Linked DNA regions of Homo sapiens. The protein of the gene in region 3 interacts with the protein of the main gene of each other region in a pairwise test. Each region holds a gene or a part of one and is shown on either strand. Other genes may lie near its edges.

Evidence for each region.
Region 1: the proteins of ANKRD50 (region 3) and ZNF250 interact in binary tests that used the Homo sapiens proteins (3 or more experiments, as listed by UniProt).
Region 2: the proteins of ANKRD50 (region 3) and ANKRD28 interact in a two-hybrid assay, tested with the Homo sapiens proteins (one large-scale study listed by BioGRID and IntAct).
Region 4: the proteins of ANKRD50 (region 3) and CLNK interact in a two-hybrid assay, tested with the Homo sapiens proteins (one large-scale study listed by BioGRID and IntAct).

What each region holds. Positions count from the first base shown.
Region 1 is NC_000008.11:144,876,817-144,882,107, forward strand, and holds the end of ZNF250 (zinc finger protein 250), read right to left. Parts: coding exon 4,699-5,291; 3' UTR 139-4,698; downstream 1-138. UniProt on the Homo sapiens protein: May be involved in transcriptional regulation.
Region 2 is NC_000003.12:15,668,343-15,673,633, reverse strand, and holds part of ANKRD28 (serine/threonine-protein phosphatase 6 regulatory ankyrin repeat subunit A), read left to right. Parts: intron 1-443; coding exon of another isoform or gene 444-553; exon of another isoform or gene 554-2,000; coding exon of another isoform or gene 2,001-2,024; exon of another isoform or gene 2,025-2,274; intron 2,275-3,077; coding exon 3,078-3,364; 3' UTR 3,365-5,291. UniProt on the Homo sapiens protein: Regulatory subunit of protein phosphatase 6 (PP6) that may be involved in the recognition of phosphoprotein substrates. Involved in the PP6-mediated dephosphorylation of NFKBIE opposing its degradation in response to TNF-alpha.
Region 3 is NC_000004.12:124,705,686-124,710,976, forward strand, and holds part of ANKRD50 (ankyrin repeat domain-containing protein 50), read right to left. Parts: 5' UTR 4,827-5,291; coding exon 4,315-4,826; intron 1-4,314.
Region 4 is NC_000004.12:10,674,132-10,679,422, reverse strand, and holds part of CLNK (cytokine-dependent hematopoietic cell linker), read left to right. Parts: intron 1-5,291. UniProt on the Homo sapiens protein: An adapter protein which plays a role in the regulation of immunoreceptor signaling, including PLC-gamma-mediated B-cell antigen receptor (BCR) signaling and FC-epsilon R1-mediated mast cell degranulation.

The sequences.
Region 1 (5,291 bases), on a different chromosome or scaffold from region 3:
TGGTACACTTGAGCCTTTTCCAAGCTTCCATGGTTGTATATTCTCTTATTTGGAGTGGTCTGTTCATGTCCTATGGTCACTGATTTGTAGGAGATCTTTATGCCAAAGTTACTGATCTTTCTTCACTGCAAATACTTGTTCCAGTCATTACTTTTTTATTGGAAAGCGTCAGATTATACACAGAAATTCCAGGCAGACTAAAATGTTTTCCAAAATAATAGAAAATTTGAAGAGAACCAAGTTTCAAATTCTTAATAGCTGTTAGAAGAAACAATTTTAAAAGAAATATATACGTATTTTTTGTGACAAGGTCTCTCTCTGTTGTCCAGGCTAGATAGTATGATCACAGCACACTAGTCTTGAACTCCCAATCAATCCTCCCACCTTAGCCTCCCACGTATCTGGGACTACAGGCGCAAGCCACAACACCCAGCTAATTTTTTTTTTGTAGAGACGGGTTTTCGCCATGCTGGTCTCAAAGTCCTGGGCTCAAGCGATCCACCCACTTCAGCCTCCCAAAGTGCTGGGATTACAGGTGTGAGCCATTGCACCCAGCCAAAGAGAAGTATTTAAATACCTAAAATATACAGACTTCTGAATAAAACAAATCCAAAATAAAGGTGGAATGCTGCTGACAAATCAGGCAGAAGATAATGGTTGAGAAGACTGTTATCAGCATGAAAATTCAGGGCCCTGGCCTTTGATGTTATATCCCAAAAAGGTAGATAGCCCACATGTTCCAGTAGGTCATGTGCCACCTCTTTCTCCTTGGAGAGGAGGAGGTGAGTGGCAAGAAAATGTAGCCTGGGAATCCTCCTCAGAAAGAAGGGCATTGAAGCCCACTTCCTGGCTCCGTGGACACCTGAGCCTGCATTCTCACCAGTGGATCAATGGCAGCCTGACATAGCAAGAACAGGCAGAATGATATTAAGCTCATTTTAAGAATGCAGGAAAAAAACTATACTTTTTGGAAGGATTTCCCTGAAAACCCTAGGTTATTGGAATCCAGAATAACTTGTACTGTGTAACTTACGTTGTCCTGTGATACACAGTCTTTCTAAACAAATGTTCCTGTATATTGAATTTAATTATTCTCATCTTAATTGGAATATGACTTTGTCTTTAATGATTAGAAATTGGGGCCTGAATAGTAGTGGGCACTGAGCAGCTGCCACTGAGTCACATGCCAGCTGTGGACTCAGCTAACACAGGTTGGCAGCTTCCTTTCATAGAAGATTTAAGATAGCACCACAGTGTTCTCATTTTCTCTCAATTAATATTGAGGTGACCTCAGGTTTCTGGACTTTCATCTCAGTGATCTCATCTAGGTACCTGGGTGATCTCTTGGCTCTGAAGTAACACCTCAGTAATCTCAGTTCCTCTTTGGACTGTTACCTCAGTGATCTCAGCTCCATTCTGAAGTAACTTCTCAGTGATCATAGCTTTTCCCTAAAGTAACCTCTTTCTAAAGCATCACCCCTAGTGATCTCAACCTTTCTCTGAAGAATCACCTTAGTGATTTCAGCCACCTCTGAAGTTAACACCTGTGTGATCTCAACTCCAGTGAACAACTCAGTTATTTCATCTCCTTTCTAAAGTTAACAGCTTAGTGATCTCATTTCCTTTCTGAAGAATCACATCAGCAGTCTCAGCCTCTCTTAAGTAACATCTCTGTGATCTCAGCTTCTAACACCTGAGGGACACCATCTTGGTCCTGAATAATACCTCAGTAACCTCAGCTCCTCCCTTAAGTAACATCTCATTGGTATCAGCTTTTCTCTGAAGCAGAACCTCAGTGATCTCAGCTCCTAAGTAACATCTCAGCATTCTCATCTTTCCGATGGTACAATATAGTGATTTCACTTCCTTTATGAAATAGCACTCAGTGACCTCCATTCTTCTAGAGTTTCACATTAGTGATTTCAACTTCTCTGAAGAAACACCTCTGTGATCTCAGCTTCTCTGAAGAATTACCTCAATGATCTAATCTCTAAAGTAATACCTTAGTGATCCCATTTCCGTTATTTCAGCTCCTCTGAAGTAAACCTCAGTGGTCAGAGCTACTCTGCAGTACCCACTAGTGATGTCAATTCCTTTCAGAAGTAACACCCAGTGATCTCACCTCCTCTCTGATGAAACACCTCAGTGTACTCAGATCCTCTGAAGTAACAAAAATTGTCTCACTTTCTTTCTGAAGTGACGCCTCAGTGATCTCAGCTCTTCTCCAAAGAAACAGTTAAGCTCTTGTCTTCTCTGAACTAACACCTTAGTTATTTTATCTATCTGAAACAACACCTCACAGAATGGCAACACCTCTAAGGTTAACACCTTGGTTATCTGAGCTATCTGAGGTTTCACTTCAGTGATCTCAGTCCCTCTGAAGTAACACCTCAGTAATATTAGTTCCTCTGGAATTTCACTTCAGTGGTTTCAGTTGCTCTGAAGTAAAACACCAGTGATGTCAGCTCCTTTCTCAAGTTAACCAATCAGTTACCAGTTCCTCTCTGGAGTTAATAATTCACTGTTGTCAGTGTCTGTACATAGAAGGGGGAACAAGCTTTTGTCTACATCGTGGTGTTTTGCTGTGGACTTAAGGATCAATGCCTGGATGGGCACAGCAGCTCATGCCTGTAATCCTAACCTTTTGGGAAGGTGAGGTGGGAGGACTGCTTCAGCCCAGGAGTTTGAGGCAGCGGTGAGCCATGATGGCACCACTGCACTCCAACCTGGTGACAGAGCAAGACCGTCTTTAAAACAAACAAAAAGGATCAATATCCTGGTGACTATTTCCTCCCCACCAAACTGACAGATGTTGGGGGCGGGGGCCTGGGGTGAAGACAGCCCTTCTCTATCTCAGGCACTTAACATGTTGAGAATTTCAAGTGGCTTGAACCTCATACATTTGTTTCGTTTGCAGCTGGCTGCTACTAGAAATGGTTCTGATTCGGTTTCAAGAACTGTATCCTTGGCCGGGTGCGGTGGCACACGCCTGTAATCCCAGCACTTTGGGAGGCCGAGGCGGGCGGATCACCTGAGGTCAGGAGTTTGAGACCAGCCTGGCCAACATGGTGAAACCTCATCTCTACTAAAAATACGAAAATTAGTCGGGCGTGGTAGCAGGTGCCTGTAATTCCAGCTACTTGGGAGGCAGAGGCAGGAGAATTGCTTGAACCTGGGAGGTGGAGATTGCAGTGAGCTGAGATTGTGCCATTGCACTTCAGCCTGGGGAACAAGAGCAAGACTTTGTCTCAAAAAAAAAAAAAAAAGTATGCTTAAAACAGAACAAATAATTCTGAATACAAATTTTTAATTATGAATAAACTAGATTCATCTTCATCATAGTAATATGGCAATGGATACTGGACTCTTGAACCAGGAGTAAAAAAATGAAAAAAAAAACCCCTTCAAATATAGGAATAGAAATACTAGAGATAGTAAAAAAGAGCTATCTGAATTTGAGAAATGTATGTTTTAAATATATCTACCAAAGAACAGTATTTTCAGCATTGTTTTGGGGGAAATACCATAAGATGTAAAGAGGTACCCACTTGGTGTAACAGCTATGAGGTCTGCTGAGTGTGAAGCTCCCCTCCTTTGCCTGCATGGGAATTGAGACATCTCACGGTTTCTGGGGCACAGGATCTGCAGGTCATAAGGGCAAGTTTTGAGGAAAATACCCATTTTTGAGTTGAATTTTTACTAAAAAGTTAGCATAACCTTTCTGATCTTGAATAAAGTTAAAAGCTCCAGATAAAGGGTTTTCTAGGCCAGGCATGGTGCCTCACGCCTGTAATCCCAACACTTTCGGAAGCAAAGGTGGGAGGATCACTTGAGGCCAGGAGTTCGAGACCAGCCTGGCCAACACGGTGAAACTCCGTCTCTACTAAAAATACAAAAATTAGCCAGGTGTGGTGGCGCATATCTATAATCCTAGTTACTTGGGAGACTGAGGCACAAGAAAAGCTTGAACCTGGGGTGGGGGCGGAGACTGCAGTGAGCCAAGATCATGCCACTGCACTGCAGCTTGGGCAACAGAGCAAGACTATCTCCACACACACATACAAAAAGTTTTTTAAATTTATGTAATTTCTCACTAATATATAAGCTTTTTCCTTGTTTCATACAAAACAGGACTCCACACACTTAGGATGGAAATCCACACACTTAGGATTTCCAACCATTTTACATGATGCTTGATGAAAATATCTTTTTATATCACTTTATCCATACAATACTTTAGTCTTTTAAGAGAATACTGAAAATAGTCCGACTTTCAAATTTTAAGTGCAATAATTAGTATGGTTAATTGATATTTAGGAAGGGCATGTAATGTTCTTAGAAAAAGAACTTTATTTGGAATGTAAGATTTTATTGGGATAATGGTTCTTATGCCTTAAATTCCCTTAGTTCAAATAAACTAATGTTAAAGAATTATGGCTGTTTTTTACCAAAATTCTCTACAATTGTATGATTACTCTCCAACATAACTTCAAGATGTTGAGGAAAATAAAACAGGTAGTCTCTGAAGTTTTTCCACAGGAACAGCACGCTAAGTGCTTCTTTCTGGAGTTATTTTGTGACACTGAATCGCCAAAGAAAAGCTTCCTATAGAGTTAACAGAGACTTCTCTTGGGCTGAAGGCTGCTTGTGGTTCCACATGCAGTTTCTGTGAGAATGGATTCTTGTGTCAGCCATGGGTCACAACTTTCTGTGCACTTTCTGGTGCTGGATTAGGTGGCCATGCTGGTTGAAGGCACGCCCACACTCCCCGCACTCATAGGGCTTCTCGCCTGTGTGGATCCGCTGGTGCTGGATGAGCACTGAGTACTGGCTGAAGGCCTTCCCGCAGCTATTGCACTCATATGGCTTCTCGCCCGTGTGGGTCCTCAGGTGCACAATCAGAGTTGCTTTCAGGCTGAAGGCTTTGCCACATTCTGTGCACTGGAAGGGCTTTTCACCTGTGTGGATTCTCTCATGCTGGATCAGAGACCGGCGTGCACTGAAGGCGTGCCCACATTCACCACACACATAGGGCTTCTCCCCAGTGTGGACTCTCTGGTGCTGGATCAGGTGTGAGTGCTGAACGAAGGCCTTCCCACATTCGTAGCATGCATAGGGCTTTTCCTCGGTGTGGATCCGCTCGTGATTCATCAGTGTGGAGCGGTGGCTGAAGGTCTTCCCACACTCACTGCACTCATAGGGCTTCTCCCCGGTGTGCACGTTGTGGTGCTGAATGAGGACTGAGCGGTCGCTGAAGGCCTTCCCACACTCGCTGCACGTGTAGGGCTTCT
Region 2 (5,291 bases), on a different chromosome or scaffold from region 3:
ACAACTTGCTAGATACCCCTACCATAGCATTCTCAGTCCTTGTTAACCTGCTCCACTCTTTCCTCTTTTTTTACATAAAGCTTTTAACATATTGTATATAATGTACTTTTTTGTTATGTTGATTTTGTGTCTTCTCCACTAAAGTGAATGTAAGCTCCACAAGAACAGTGAAATCTTTGTCAGTTGCATTCACTGATATATTCTTAGTGTTCTAAATAGTGCCTGAGCAAGTGGAGGCTCAGTGAATATTTGCTGCATGAGTGATTATGCCAAGCACTGTACTAACTTCTGATGATATAGTGTAAAATAAGACATAGTCTACTCCCTTGAATGGAGATAAGAGTGCAAACAGCCTATTAACGATGCACTTAAAATAGTTTAATTGGAATAAGCATAGAATGCTATGAGAGTACTTAAGAGGGTCTTCAAATCCTTTCTTGCAGGATCAGAGAAGGCATCCCAAAAAATGCAACTGCTAAGCCAAAATCCAAAGGATAAGGAGAAAGTGGGGGAGGAACTTTCTAAGCAAAGAGAGTGGCATGTTAAGAGATAAAACTGGCCGGGCATGGTGGCCCATGCCTATGGTCCTAGCACTTTGGGAGGCACAAGGCGAGTGGATCACCTGAGGTCAGGAGTTCGAGACCAGCCCCGCCAACATGGCAAAACCCCGTCTCTACTAAAAATACAAAAATTAGCCAGGTGTGGTGGCATGTGCCTGTAATCCTAGCTACTTGGGAGGCTGAGGCAAGAGAATCGCTTGAACCCAGGAGGCAGAAGTTGCAGTGAGCCGAGATCATGCCAGTGCACTCTAGCCTGGGTGACAGAGCCAGACTTCGTCTCAAAAAATAACCCCCATGCAGAGGAGAGGAGCCTGTTTTTAGTCATATTCTGACTAGAAAACACACCTGAAACAAGCTTCTTTCCCCACTCCCGCTCTCATCCAAGGCATCCTGGCCTATGTAATGGGTTGTTCTGCCTGCCAGCAGCAGGAACAGCAGCAGGCACCTTTAGAAGAACCCTTGAAAGAAGTGTGGGCAGTGAAGCACTCCCCCAGCTACTTTGAACAAATAAAATTTAATTAAAAATACGGACAGCCTTCAGCCACTGCTGCCAAACTTGGAAGGACATCAGTTGTTCTCTTTGACCCTTGACAAAATGGGAACTTTACAAAGGGGGAAAAATTACTTTTTGTGGCTGGGCACAGTGGCTTACTCCTATAATCCCAGCACTTTGGGAGGCAGAGGCGGGAAGATCACTTAAAGCCAGCAGTTTGAGACCAGCCTGGGGAACAAAGCGAGACCCTGTATCTACAAAAAAGTTTAAAAATTAGCCAGGCATGGCATGTGCCTATAGTCAGAGCTAGTCAGGGGGCTGAGGTGGGAGGATCACTTGAGCCCAGAGGTTGAGGGTGCAGTGAGCATGATCATTATACTGCACTCCAGCCTGGGTGACAGAACAAGACCCTGTCTCAAAAAAAAAAAAAAAAATCCTTTTTTTATCAAGGCCAATATAGCATAGATGAAAATATGTGGGAGAACTGGAAGCAACCAGATGCCCAGTAGTTGAAATGTATAACTAAACCATAGTATAATCACACAATGAAATACTGTATAACAATGAAAATGAACCAACTACAGTTACATACAACATTGATAAATTTCATATAATGCTACACAAAAATGCCAGATATGAAATAATACATACTACATGATTCCATTTATATTAAGTTTTTTAAAAACTCTAAACTGTAGGCTGGGTAAGGTGGTTCACATCTGTAATCCCAGCATTTGGGAGGCCGAGGCAGGCAGATCACTTGAGGCCAGGAGTTTGAGACCAGCCTGGCCAACATAGCGAAATCCCATCTCTACTAAAAATATAAAAAATTAGCTGGTCATGGTGGCACACACGTGTAATCCCAGCTACTCAGGAGGCTGAGGCAGGTGAATCACTTGAACCCAGGAGGCAAAGGTTGCAGTGAGCCAAGTTTGCACCACTGAACTTCAGCTTGGGTGACCGAGCAGACTCTGTCTCAAAAAAAAAAAAACAAAAAAAAAACTATAGTGTTTATGACTCCAAGTTGAAAGCAAGGAAATTACTACCCCATAAGTCAGGATAGTAGTTACCATTGTGGAAGAAGAAAGGTGTAACGACTGGGTAGAGGATATATGGAGGCTTCTGGTATGCTGGTAATGTTCTCTTTCTTAATCTGTATGGTGGTTATACAAATGTATGTTATGTGATAAAACTATTAAAGTTCCATATGGTATAATTGAAGCTTGGCATCACACTATTATCACTTCTCTCCCGCTCCGTCCTCAAGACTGAGTCTTGTACCAACTGAGGTACCAAATGTTTCCTCCTTGGTTTGCTGTGTTGACACTTTGTGGTAACTTACGACTAAGGTCAGTTGTCTTCCGCTTAAAAAAAGGGAATATTTACAAAGGAAATATTTGTTTTGATTTAGTAGTTTTTAAAGTTCATCTGCTTAGTTTGTCTACTGTTTTTCTTCAAGAGACTGTGACCCCAAGAGAAAAGTTAAATTGACAACTAAGTGTCATTCATTCAACACATATCTTTTGAGCACCTGCCCTGTGGCTGATTCATGAAGCTGTACACATTTAAGATTTCTTAGCATCAAAAAGTTTCCTTACATAACTACAAATTAAATTTTTTTATTTTTTCTTACCTTGACACTGATATAACTGCAAATTAACAGTAAATCTCTGCCTACCATCCTGAAAGAATATTCACGATATGTGGTGTTTTTCTTATTCTAGCCCAGTTTTTTCTGTGAATTCAGATGGATACGGATAAGTTGTGAGACCTTGGGGAATCATTCTTCTCTGGGCCTGCTTCCTCTTCTGTTGTCTAGTCTAACATCCCCTTCCACCCTAGGTTTCTATGGCTATTCTTTTTCTACTTATTAGAAACTTGCGAATCATGCTGGTTACAGCAATTTATTATAAGCTAAGTAATGTAAAATATGTCTAAAGTTGAAGTACTTTAGGCTTATTTCCTTGTCTTTGGTGAAATACATCTCAGGATGCTTAATTTTTAAATTTTATCTTTAATTCTAGGCTATACCCCAGCTTTGGCCTGTGCTCCCAATAAGGATGTGGCTGATTGCCTGGCTCTCATTTTGGCCACCATGATGCCTGTCTCATCAAGTAGTCCTTTATCATCCTTAACATTCAATGCCATTAACCGTTATACCAACACCTCAAAAACAGTCAGCTTTGAAGCTTTGCCCATCATGAGGAATGAACCTAGCTCCTATTGCAGTTTCAATAACATTGGAGGGGAACAGGAGTACTTATACACTGACGTGGATGAGCTCAACGACTCCGATTCTGAGACCTACTGAGAGGCTGAGGAGGAGGGAGTTCTCACAGTAAAGCTTCAAACTGTGCTTTTTCAGGAAAAAGGCACTTTGATATTCACGTAGAAATTCAACCTAAGAGGAAAGATCCCACAGTGAGCCAATGTTAAGAGATCTGATGGCATTAGGAGGAAGAGTTTTAAAGGCAAGTTTTACAAAAGGAACTTCTAGAATCTTGAAATAGACCTGACTGAGGAAAACACATTGATGTCAGAATTCTTTGTGGAATTGTTTAATTTGGTTTTGCAGTGCCAGGAACAATTGGGGACACTGTGCACTCTAACCTGCTTACACAAGCAACACTATTGTAACAGAAGAAATAAAGACACTAGATTTAAATTTTATCAATAAAATTACAACTAAATTTAAAGGCAATAAAAGTTTGGTACAGTAGGCATTATGTGCACAGCAAATTGCAAAAGGACCAAATAACTGAAAGGTTTTTTTAATAAAATGCCATTTTGTGGAAACTGGAGTAGATTAAATGAAACATTACCTAAACCAAACTGCAATATTTCTGGAAATGAAGCTGAGATTTGGTTTTAAATGTTGAGTTTTTTTGGGTTTTGTTTTTTTTTTAAGAAAACATCTGAAAGCCTTCCAATGCTGTATTAAACCATGAGAGAAAGCAGATGTATTTTTACATTTTTTTCTTTTACAGAACTATTTCAAATTTCCAATTTTTATACTATTAGAATTAAAAACCAGCTGACTGGGTGCAATACGGGTGAAAATACTTGTGACATAGACATTGAGATGGATTGGGGTCAGGCTGTTGCCCTGTTTTGAATGGTTTGGGTTTAAAATAGTACTATTTTTGTTTGAAAATGTAAAGAATTTCCTAGAAAAAAATTCATGAAATCAAAAAGTAGACTATTTCACCCTATTGCAGCTAAGTGGTCCTGGGGCATGGAGTCTTCAACCTCTCTATGAATGGCACACCTTAGTCACTTATGTTACTTTTGTGTCCCCACCATGGGTTGGGGGATTTTTTGTTTATTCTGATCTATGAGTTTTGAAAAAGTGAATAATCAAAAGGAAAATAATTCCTTGTTGTTCATAAATTAAGCATCACTAAAGTCTCTTGAAAGGCATTTCTGTATTGGGCAAGATTTAAAATACTAAAGCCTTAGGTCCTATTCATATTTAAAGTAGCATGTTTGTAACCTGTTACTATTTGGAGAGAGAAGCAGTTGCCTGCCAAATTGAAGACTACCTTTCAAATAGCAAAAGAGAGAGAGAAGGCTGATATTTCGGCTTTTAAATAAAGATTTGTGTGGTTCTGCTTTTACTGTAACTGTCACTTTCCCAGTGAAAATGATTTCATATACATTGAGGGTCTTACAGGTATGGGTAAAGTTCTATAAATTGCAACAAAATGATACCCAATTTCATTTTATCCTTTTTGTATTGTGAAACTGGAAACTTTATGACATTGTAAATTATCAGCTGGTTTTTCTGAATATAAAGTGTGAAAACACAGAACAGTATTTTGATCTATTTGATAATTTTGTGGGTTTTTTGAAGAATTAATGAGCATGTACATAGAAATAGTGACTGCTTGAATACTGTATTTACTTGCACTCTTTCAGTACATCAAGATTCCTGTATATTTTAGAGTATAATAAAACACAGATGTGAGTTGTATTTAATGAATAATGTATTTGTATCTGTGCATATTATCTACAAATCTATAAAGTTTCTAGGGCATTGACTACTAGATTTTAAGCATTTTTTCTAAAATATTTACAGAAATTATAAATCTAATCCCCCATCTTTTCTTTATAATATAAAGAAGTCATAATGAACCCTTCCTAATTATTAGTAGTAGGAAGGTGAATATGCATTTTAATGACAGTGGACTACATTTTCTATTGTACCTTTTGAAAAAAAAAAAAATCAAGCAGATTCT
Region 3 (5,291 bases):
CACTAACTTAGTTGCTTGAGTTTTTTGTCAAAAATAATTGGAATTTGTTTTATAATTATAGGACTACTAGGAGTCCACCTCTAACACTAACTCTAGAAAAGACACAGTCAATGTAAAATATACAAAGTTTTGCACTAAAGGCCTAAAGTGGGAGGCAGAATTAAAGAAATCAGCCTTTGGCTCTCAAAGTAAGTAAAAATATAAACATCAACTTAGTTTCAGAAATGAGGAAATAAAATATTGTAAAGAAATTAACAATAGCATTGTACTTTAACCAGATACGAAAAATAAAAATGAAAAAAAGATAGCAATGTGTCTTCATATCATTCCCTTTAGCAGATCACAAAATTCTATTAATGTTTAAATGTTCATGTGTTTCATGAACACTGTAACAAGTATTTACTCTGATGGTTATTTCTCTCTATATGAATAAGATAAATATTAATGTTAGAATTTGAGTTCCATGAAGGCAGAATTCTGTCTGTTCTATTCCCTGATTTATCTCCAGCTGAACTCTACCTAACACACAGAAGGTTCTTAATAAATAACGCAAATGAACTATGCTTCAAACGGAGAACACTCTCATTATTTGTCATACAAATAAATGAATGTCAGAAGAAATTTCGTGACAACTATATCTAAAAAACTATAGAATATACTATACCATGTCAGAAGGGAAGAAAGTGGCAATGTTTCACTAGATTAAGATGAAGTTCCTTTCACTCTTCCTTAATTATTATGAACTAGTAATTAACAAATTACGATTTAGCCATATAATTTCATGTATCACGTATTCTATCTACTATCATTAGGCACAAAAAAAATTAAAGAAAGCTAAGAAGCAAACTGAAGAAAAGATAAGTGGATTTAAAAAGCATCAAGTAAATCACTTCTCTGCAATTTCCCCAGCTTTGTGAATCTGTGAATAACTGAGATTTTTTCATTATCAACTTTCTATAACTATTAAAATTGTTTCACACATGAATACGGATGCTCCTTAACCTATGATAGGATTACACCCTGATAAATCCATTATATGTTGAAAATATCTTAAGTCAAAAATGCATCTGATAACTCTCAACCTACCAAACATCATCGCTTAGCCTACCCTACCTTAAGCATGCTCAGAATACTTACATTAGTCTACACTTGAGCAAAAGTATCTAACACAAAGTTTATTTTATAATGAAGTGTTGAATATATCATGTAATTTATTGAATACTATATTGAAAGTAAAAAACAGAACAGTTGTATGGGTACTCAAAGTAAGGTTTCTACTAAATACATATTGCTTTCTCACCATCCTAAAGTCAAAGAATCTTAAGTTGAACTATTATAAATTGGGAAAAGTCTGTATATGAAACCATCAATATTAGCAGAAATTTAAAGGTTAAAAAGTAATAATGCAAAAACTGGTTTTGGATTTAGTTTTTGTCAAAAGCGAAAAATAAATATTTTCCTGCTGTTTGCTTACATTTATATTTAATCTCCTGTCATGTTATAATTAGCTACTTCCATTTCCATTTCCCTCAAAATATTGTAACTCTTTGGAAACAATGGTTTTCAGCCCCATTTTCCACCTGTTGAATTATATCTATCCATGCCTAAATAAAATACGTTCCTATTAAAATTCTCTAAAGGACTTATTTAAGAAATCTGTCAATCAATAATAGAACCTACAATAAAATCTTGAATTATTTGTCCAAAAGTAGAAGCCTAGATAATGTAATATCACATACCAAACAAAAATACATCTTTTTAACTTTGAATTGTGCTCTCAGGTTTGCAAGTGAATATAGCTGTATTATAGCTTCACAGTTGTAATGGAAATGTGTCTCTATGAATGATCAAAAAGAGTGTTTCAATACCATAGTTCCCTAATTAATATCATGATCAATTACTTTAACGATGAAGAAAGAAAGTGACTCAGGTTTTTGAAAAGTCCAGTAAGAAATCAGTGAAGAGCACCAAAATGGTCCAAGTAGAAAGACTAAAGCCTTCTCTTTTATTAAAGTGTAAACTGGGAATGCAAAGTGATTGGCTCCTTCTGTCAATCAGAAAAGCAGGGCTGGTATGGTTTTTACACACAGCTCTAATTGCTTCTTCTTCCTCTTCAATTAGCTAATAACTGAGAATCACACAGGAAAAAGAAAAAATAAAAGAAACAATTGAATAAAAGAATTATTTTTCAGGAAAATCTATGATACCATAGAGAAAGCTATGCTTAGGATCAGAATATATCAAAAATACAGTAATCAGACATGATTTTTAAACATTCAACATTCAGGTATCAGAAATTTACATATGAATTTCAATAAATTATAAATTACATACCTTGGTTACATCAGATTAAGTTCACCTCAGACTAAGCTCTTTGAAAGTTATTGGTAGGTGTCAATAAACCTAAATAGCTTATGAAATTACTTATCACAAAGAAATGAAAATTCTGCTCTGCCACTAGTATCTTCAGAAAAAGCAGTAAGAAGAAAAGAGTTGCTTATGTACAGTTTTAATTCTATTAAAAGGTATAGTTTTATATTAAAGACTACATTATTTATTCTGTACAGTGATTCCATATTGAACACTCTCCATCAAACCTTGCATCTCACATGCCACAGGCATCAACTAACAGATTTCCTCATTAATTTAAGAATGATACAACAGTTTTAACGCTGACTTTGATGGCTAACAACAAAAGATAATAGATTTGCCTTTAGTTTTATTGGACTAAATTTACATATTAAAGAGTCTACAAGAATATCACACCTCTCAAAGATACATCCCTTTGGCTGACTTTAATAAATTCCTCCCATATTTGAATTCTGTACCATCCCTAACTCTCATTCTAGAATACCACTCCCTCTATCACTATATGGGTAATCTGAAAACCACACTCAAACCACACTGTGACACAACTCCTGTTCTCCAGCTTTGCCATACATAACCTTCTAAACCCCTCCTCTTCCCATCAAGTCCCCCAGAGAATTTCTAAGATTACTAACACATACACACACACACACACACACACACACACATACACACACACACATTTAAAATCTCAGCCCTGCCATTTACTAGTCTGTAACCTTGAACAATTTATTTAGCCTCTCTGTACCTTAGTTTCCTCATCTATAAAATGGGAGTAGTAACTACCTCACAGGATTATTATGAGGATTAAATGATCTAATATTTGTAAAGCACTTAGAATAATGACTGACACTTACTGTTTACTGTAATTACTATTAAATATTTTCAATATTACTTTCAAAATGTATAGATTTCACCCCATTAGATTTGAGGATATCATAAAAACAAACATCACTCTTTTTAGAGTGATTCAAATCTCTCCTAGAAACACACTCAAGCAGAAGAGAGCCACACACACACACACACACAAACCTCCAGTGCACAGTATACCAGAATCTTTGGAGAACAAACTTTTGCCCGCTAAGAATGTTATTGTAGAGAAAAAGCTTATGGCAAAATGGGTAATTCAAGCAGAAGTGAAGCACAAACTAACAATTTGCCTGCTACTTTTACAATGAGCAGAGGCATGATATGCAAAAAAAAATGTTTTCAAGGAATTATATTTTCTTGAACAGATTTGAATCTGAAACCACTCTGGAAAGCAACTTGCTCACTTCCTGGACCAATCCATTTACCATGGAAAAAAAGCTTTGCTGAAGTTAGGAAAAAACACTTTCTTTGTACCACTCACTAAAAGTAAAAGTAGTAAGATGATCCCAAATGTTCGCTATTTTATAAATTCACATACTTCTAAATACCAGTTTTTCAATTAGTTAGTTAATAGGAGAATAAATCCCAAAACTCATCAGCAAATTTTCTTCAGATTCTCAGTGGCCAATAATCTCCTTTAAAGAAAACCTTTCTTACTTAAAAAAATACTACTACTATAAGGAAAAAAATAAAAAGATACTAGATGCTATACTGATAATTACTCTAAGTTCAGTTCACCCTCTGAAAATGTAACCTATTTCCAGACAGCTAAATGTGCTTCTCTACCATAAGAACAAATTTCCCTTACCATTTATAGGCAATGTAAGTAACATTATGTTATTAAGTAAAATTAAGATACACTTTTAATCCATTTTAATCCATATGCTGTGCAATACCAAAACCTAAATTTTACTTCCTTTGATATTCAAAGTAAACAGGTATACTCATAACTTCAGATTAAGGCCAAATGTACAGCACCAGTAAAAGTAACCCACAAAGTTAAAACAAAAAACTACAACTAAAAATTAATTTAATTTCAGCATAGAAATCTGAACACCATGACATTTTTATTGTTACCTTTTAAATGCTTCGGCTGGGTTTCTCTCGCACTCCCCAGGCTGTAAGAGGCTTTGGACTGCTGGATCCCTTAGCTTGTCCTCATATCCTTGGAGTAGTCCACTGCGGCAGATCTGGGCTACTAGACCTCTAATAAACCCTCCAACACACAAAGTATCAGAGTCCTGGGCTTTGCAGAAATGAAAGGCCAAAGCTTGGCGATGTAAACCTCTCTGCAAACTTGCAGGTGAACTTGGCCATAAGAGTTCAGTACATAGGGCCGTCTTGCCACTGCCAGGCCCTCCTACCAACAACACACCCCAGGCAGCTCCCTTTCCAGAGACACCACTAGCATTATTCCCAGAATTCATTACAAGTGATGGTGCATTGACAGCACTATTGCAGCAGTTACTTTTCTCCTGGAGGCAATGCTGAAGCTTGTGGAAAACCCACTCCCTACAGTAAAACTGCTTCCCTTGCAGTAAACTGGTTTGAGCCATTTTGCAGACTTTCTCTTCCCAAGGATTAGTCATAACGGGTTTTTTATCTTCATTTGCTAGAGTCTGGATACATCAACACAGGTCTTTCCATCCATTATGACATAACTTGTATATTAAGTTGACTCTGAAGACAGAGTAACTAGTTACAGTAAAATTCAACAGCCACAGAGTTCCTCTGTCAACAGAACGTGCATGACTTTATTTGGTTCCTTATTCTTGATCAGCAGTCTATGTATTAGTTGTTGAACTGAGGGAGAAACGCCTGATTCCACAGCTCAGCAACACTTTTCCTAAATTTTAATGAGTCACATAACTCCATGGTTATAACTGGAGTTTATGTGATTGTGGATGTTTCAAGAACAGAGATGAGACAATACATGTGGAAAACTAAAGAAAAAACCCAATCTTTCAATTTGTACAAAATGCTTCTCCAGATTCCAAGTGTTAATTCTGCATCTGACAATTAGATTCTGAAAAGAGGTCCACTGCATTAAATGG
Region 4 (5,291 bases), about 110 Mb from region 3:
TTTCTTCTAGGGTTTTTATGGTTTTAGGTCTAACATGTAAGTCTTTCATCCATCTTGAATTAATTTTTGTGTAAGGTGTAAGGAAGGGATCCAGTTTCAGCTTTCTACATATGGCTAGCCAGTTTTCCCAGCACCATTTATTAAATATGGAATCCTTTCCCCATTTCTTGTTTTTGTCAGGTTTGTCAAAGATCAGATAGTTGTAGATATGTGGCATTATTTCTGAGGGCTCTGTTCTGTTCCATTGGTCTATATCTCTGTTTTGGTACCAGTACCATGCTGTTTTGGTTGCTGCAGCCTTGTAGTATAGTTTGAAGTCAGGTAGTCTGATGCCTCCAGCTTTGTTCTTTAGGCTTAGGATTGAGTTGGCAATGCACGCTCTTGTTTGCTTCCATATGAACTTTAAAGTAGTTTTTTTTCCAATTCAGTGAAAAAAGTCATTGGTAGCTTGATGGGGATGGCATTGAATCTATAAATTACCTTGGGCAGTATGGCCATTTTCACGATATTGATTCCTCCTACCCATGAGCATGGAATGTTCTTCCATTTGTTTGTATACTCTTTTATTTCATTGAGCAGTGGTTTGTAGTTCTCCTTGAAGAGGTCCTTCACATCCCTTGTAAGTATTTTATTTTCTTTGAGGCAATTGTGAATGGGAGTTCACTCATGATTTGGCTCTCTGTTTGTCTGTTATTGGTGTATAAGAATGCTAGTGATTTTTGCACATTGATTTTGTATCCTGAGACTTTGCTGAAGTTGCCTATCAGCTTAAGGAGATTTTGGGCTGAGATGATGGGGTTTTCTAGATATTTGACCTGAAGAAGTTCTATTTTAAGGTGATTTCTACAGAAACTAATTTCATCATATTCTTATTTATTTTTTATTATTCATCTATCAAAGCCTTGGGTGTCTTACAATTCCTCAAATGTGCTAATCCTCTGAAAATATTAAGATTTAATGAAAAATAATAGAAATTATTTTGGAATACCTTCCTAGCCAAATTTCAAATCCTCAGAGTTTTTCACGGCACTGATGCAAAGAAATTACTCAGTAATTATCTGTGGAACTATTCTTGCATAGCGGTTTATACTTTACAGAGTGCTTTCACTTTCATCATCTTACTTGGTCTTCAAAATAATCCTATGAGCAAAGAAGGATGAGCACTCATAGCCTCATCTTTCAGATTAGAGAAGCTGAGACTCAAGTTGTACAATTCACTGTATAATTCAGCATACCTGGGTTGAAAGATTTGTCTCCCATCTTGCTAGATAAGTGATCCTGAATAAAAGAAGAGAAAAAGAAATAGTTAATTATGCAAGGGGAAGTTTAATTCAGGAGTTAGGTTCTAAATGTACTCGAAGTTACAGATGAAATGATGATCTCATCTGGATCCACACTGTGCATTTGTTCACTGGACAAGCTTGGCTCAGAAGAAGTCTCTTGCACAGAATGACAGGATTGTTCAATGCTGAAAAATCTAGGTCATTTGGATTGTTGCTGTATAACGGAAACTAAATTAAACAAAATGCCCTACATACGGTTCTGGTAAGCAGTAAATGGTATTATTATTATTATTATTATTATTGCTATTTTTATTAGTCCATTTTCACACTGCTGTAAAGCACTTCTCTGAGACTGAGTAGTTTATAACGGAAAGAGGTTTAATTGACTCACAGTTCCACATGGCTGGGGAAGCCTCATGAAACATACAATCATGGCAGAAGGGGAAGCAGCCACCTTCTCCACAAGACAGCAGGAGAGAGAAGAGTGAAGAAGAGCATGGAAAACTGCCTTATAAAACCATCAGATCTTGTGAGAACTCACCCACTATCACAAGAACATCATGGGGGAAACCACCCCCATGATCCAATCACCTCCTCCCTCCCTCAGCACCTGGGGATTACAAATCGAGATGAGATTTAGGTGGGGACAGACAGCTAAACCATATTACTACTACTCTAAGTTGTATTACTCTTTTCCAGTCTTGTTTAGACTACCTGGGCTTTTGTGTTTCTCCTTTGGATTTTAAATTTCCCTCACAAATTTTTCAGGCTCTCCTGATCATAAAACAGCTCCTCAGAAAATCACCAGCATACATCAGGTGCTTAATAAATGAATGTTGAAAAAAATTACAGTGTTTTTGCCATTAGCCTTTAGACGTCCATGGGAATGGTGGGGTTTACTGGATCTATCTTCACCCTTATCTTCACCGCAGGGCCAACCTGTAAATGGTGGTAAATATATAGCAATCCCTAAATCTTAGTTTATTTTCTTATACTTTTTTTCCTCTAAAATTTGCCTTCAGTACCATCTCAATGCATTAATCAAGCAATGGAGAAACAATCACAGTTGGGTAAGTTCTGATTTAATCCAGGCCTAGAAGTGCCTGCCTCTAATCAATGTGGTTCTGCCATCATTTATGGAAGCCAAAAAAAAAAAAAATAGGGGCGAGACAGAGGTAAACTTAAAAATAATAAAATAAAATATCTGTTAGGATTTTGGCAAACTTGGAGACTATTTTTCTACAATCTCACTTTACGTGAACAGTAAAAATCACTTTAATAATAAGAGCAGAGAGAAGGAAGAGCCAAAGAAAAAAGAAGGAGGAGAAGGAAGAAAAATGAAGGATAGAGGAAGGAAAGGAACATGAGAAAGCTAAATGAACAGGAAAAAGGATAAAAAGTCTATTCACCACAAAGTGGAATAAGAGGAGAGAGAAAGAATCTTACCACTAAAGGAAGGAAACCCTTTCTGCAGAATCAGGCAGCTGAAGAGAAAAAAGGAAATGGTTTTTAAAAACAAAACTCAACAGGAATAATAAATTCAGAAACTATAGATTGCATCAGTTCATTAAGAGTGTTTTCAAAATCATTTAAAATTAAAATGAATGCACAGTCACATTGCCTTGAGATACTCAAGGGAAGTTACTCATTACCAGGACAGTTGCAAAATTTTATAAAAATGTGCCATACATAATAGCAGAAAAACTAGGAAAGCACTCTCCCTTACCCCTCAAAAAAAAAAAAAAAGAAATCTATAATAACAATGCATTTGACTTCAAAGGCCTCCACTCAATGGAAATCCAATAAAATTAAATGTTATATTTAATTAAATTGAGCTGATTGATCTGACTGGGGTATAGAATTAGAAATCCAATCAGCATATATTTTCCTCTAAGTATGAGCATCTCTAAAATGTAACTTTCTCATTTTTGATATGAAAATTAAAGAAAATACATATAACTCTGAATTGGAACCAAATTAATATCATCTGTATCTGAGAAATCTTGATTTCGACATGTTTACTCAAAGCTCCTATGTGTGTGCAAACACACACACACATAGACACACACACACACACACACACACACACACACTCTTCTGGCTCTCTTCTCCAAATATACACACATGCTCCCTTTCTCAATTCCAAAAATCATTCACCATTTTGGATATGTGTGATGTGATTGTGCAGAAAAAGTCAGATGTGTATTGTGTGGGTTTTATATTCTTTTCCTTTTTTCCTGTTTTAATGATAAAAGAAAGCCTTAAGCCTTAATATAGACCTTATTCTTGAGCCTTGACCCAGTTTTAATTGCACAACTACCTCCTACCTTCTCGATTCATTCAAAGCTTTTCTTTAGCCGTTCACAGTTTGCTTTTGGTCATTTCCTATATCTAGAAGGTATCTTGTAGATATTATTAGAATGACATTTCCTAAGCTTTTAAATAAATAGAGGCCAGTATTTTCATAAGCATTATCTTCTAGGAATAAATAACTAATGTTTGGGAACAAAACAATTTCTTTACCCTAAAAGCATTTTTTTCTTCATGAAATATTAATTTTGGATCAGGTGAAATGCAGCAGCAATATTTATGATAAATGTCTCTTTGCAAGCTCAGTTTGGTAGTACTGGTGAATTCCCAGTGGAGAACAAGAGTTCTCAAGGGTAACAAGGAAATGCGATTGTTGCATTACATATTTCTAATTGTTTAAACTGCTTGTGATACCATAAGGATATTAATTATTTTTGAATTAAGACACGTGAAAATCCAGCCTATTTATAAAACAAGTCTCTGCTTCTTAAAACATTCACTCAGACCCCAGGTGGGTTCTGAGCTCAGAAGCAGGCATCCTGGTTTTAGTGCCCAAATCGAATGTATGTTCTTTGGAAATCTTATAGATACTTTCATCTGCAGAACCCTGTTTTCTTTATTTTAGTTTTCTAAAATATAGGTGTGATTCTTTAACCCTCAAATCCATTATCTTTTATTTCATGCTTTAAGTTCTGGGATACATGTGCAGAACCTGCAGGTTTGTTACGTAGGTAAACATGTGCCATGGTGGTTTGCTGCATCCATCCAACCCATCATCTAGGTTTTAAGCCCCACATGCTTTGTCCTAATTAGGTATTTGTCCTAATGCTCTCCCTCCCCTTGCCCCAAACCCCCCAACAGGCCCCAGTGTGTGATGTTCCCCTCCCTGTGTCCATGTATTCTCATGAACATGAACACGGATGAAGCTGGAGGCCATCATTCTTAGCAAACTGACACAGGAACAGAAAACCAAACACCACATGTTCTTACTCATAAATGGGGGTTGAACAATGAAATCAAATCCGTTATCTTTACAAAGCATTTTCAAACCACAAATTACTTAATGAGCTAATCAAATATAATCATTGAGACCATCCGCCCCAAAGCTGTGGGGTTGTTTGGTCCAAATAGATGGTTGAGGCAGGGGTCTCTCCACTCAGGATGTGAACCACCCTGTGCACCTCTCTTTGACATGGTCCCCTTTATACCTGGAGGAGAGTACAGTGAGCCCCGTAGGGAGACAACACACACTATTTCTCAAACTGGGGTTCATTTTGGATCCCCAAAGAGTTCCAGGTCAGGGTTAATAAATTATATGGGAACTGTATTAATGAAATGAAAGCACAGAGTTCCAACCCAAAGTAAATTCATTATGAGCATATTCTGGCCCTTTTGCCTAGGCTTTAAGCCCTGGTATACACTCAGGCAATTTTATTGCCCATGTTGGCATTTGCAATTAGATTTGCATTGGCGTCTAGCACTCAGTACAGTGGTGTTTTTTCTTGTTGGAGAAATAAGCTGGCATCATGAAAACAGGCAGCCTCTCCTTGTGGACTCCTGGAGGACCCTGGGCTCCTTTGTACCTCCACACTGCTCCACCCAACACGTCTCCTTCTGCCTGGTCCCTCCCTGACAGTGAGTCCCTGAAAGTAGGGTGTGGTCTCCTCTTGATACCTTCAGAGCTTCCTTCAGCTTCCC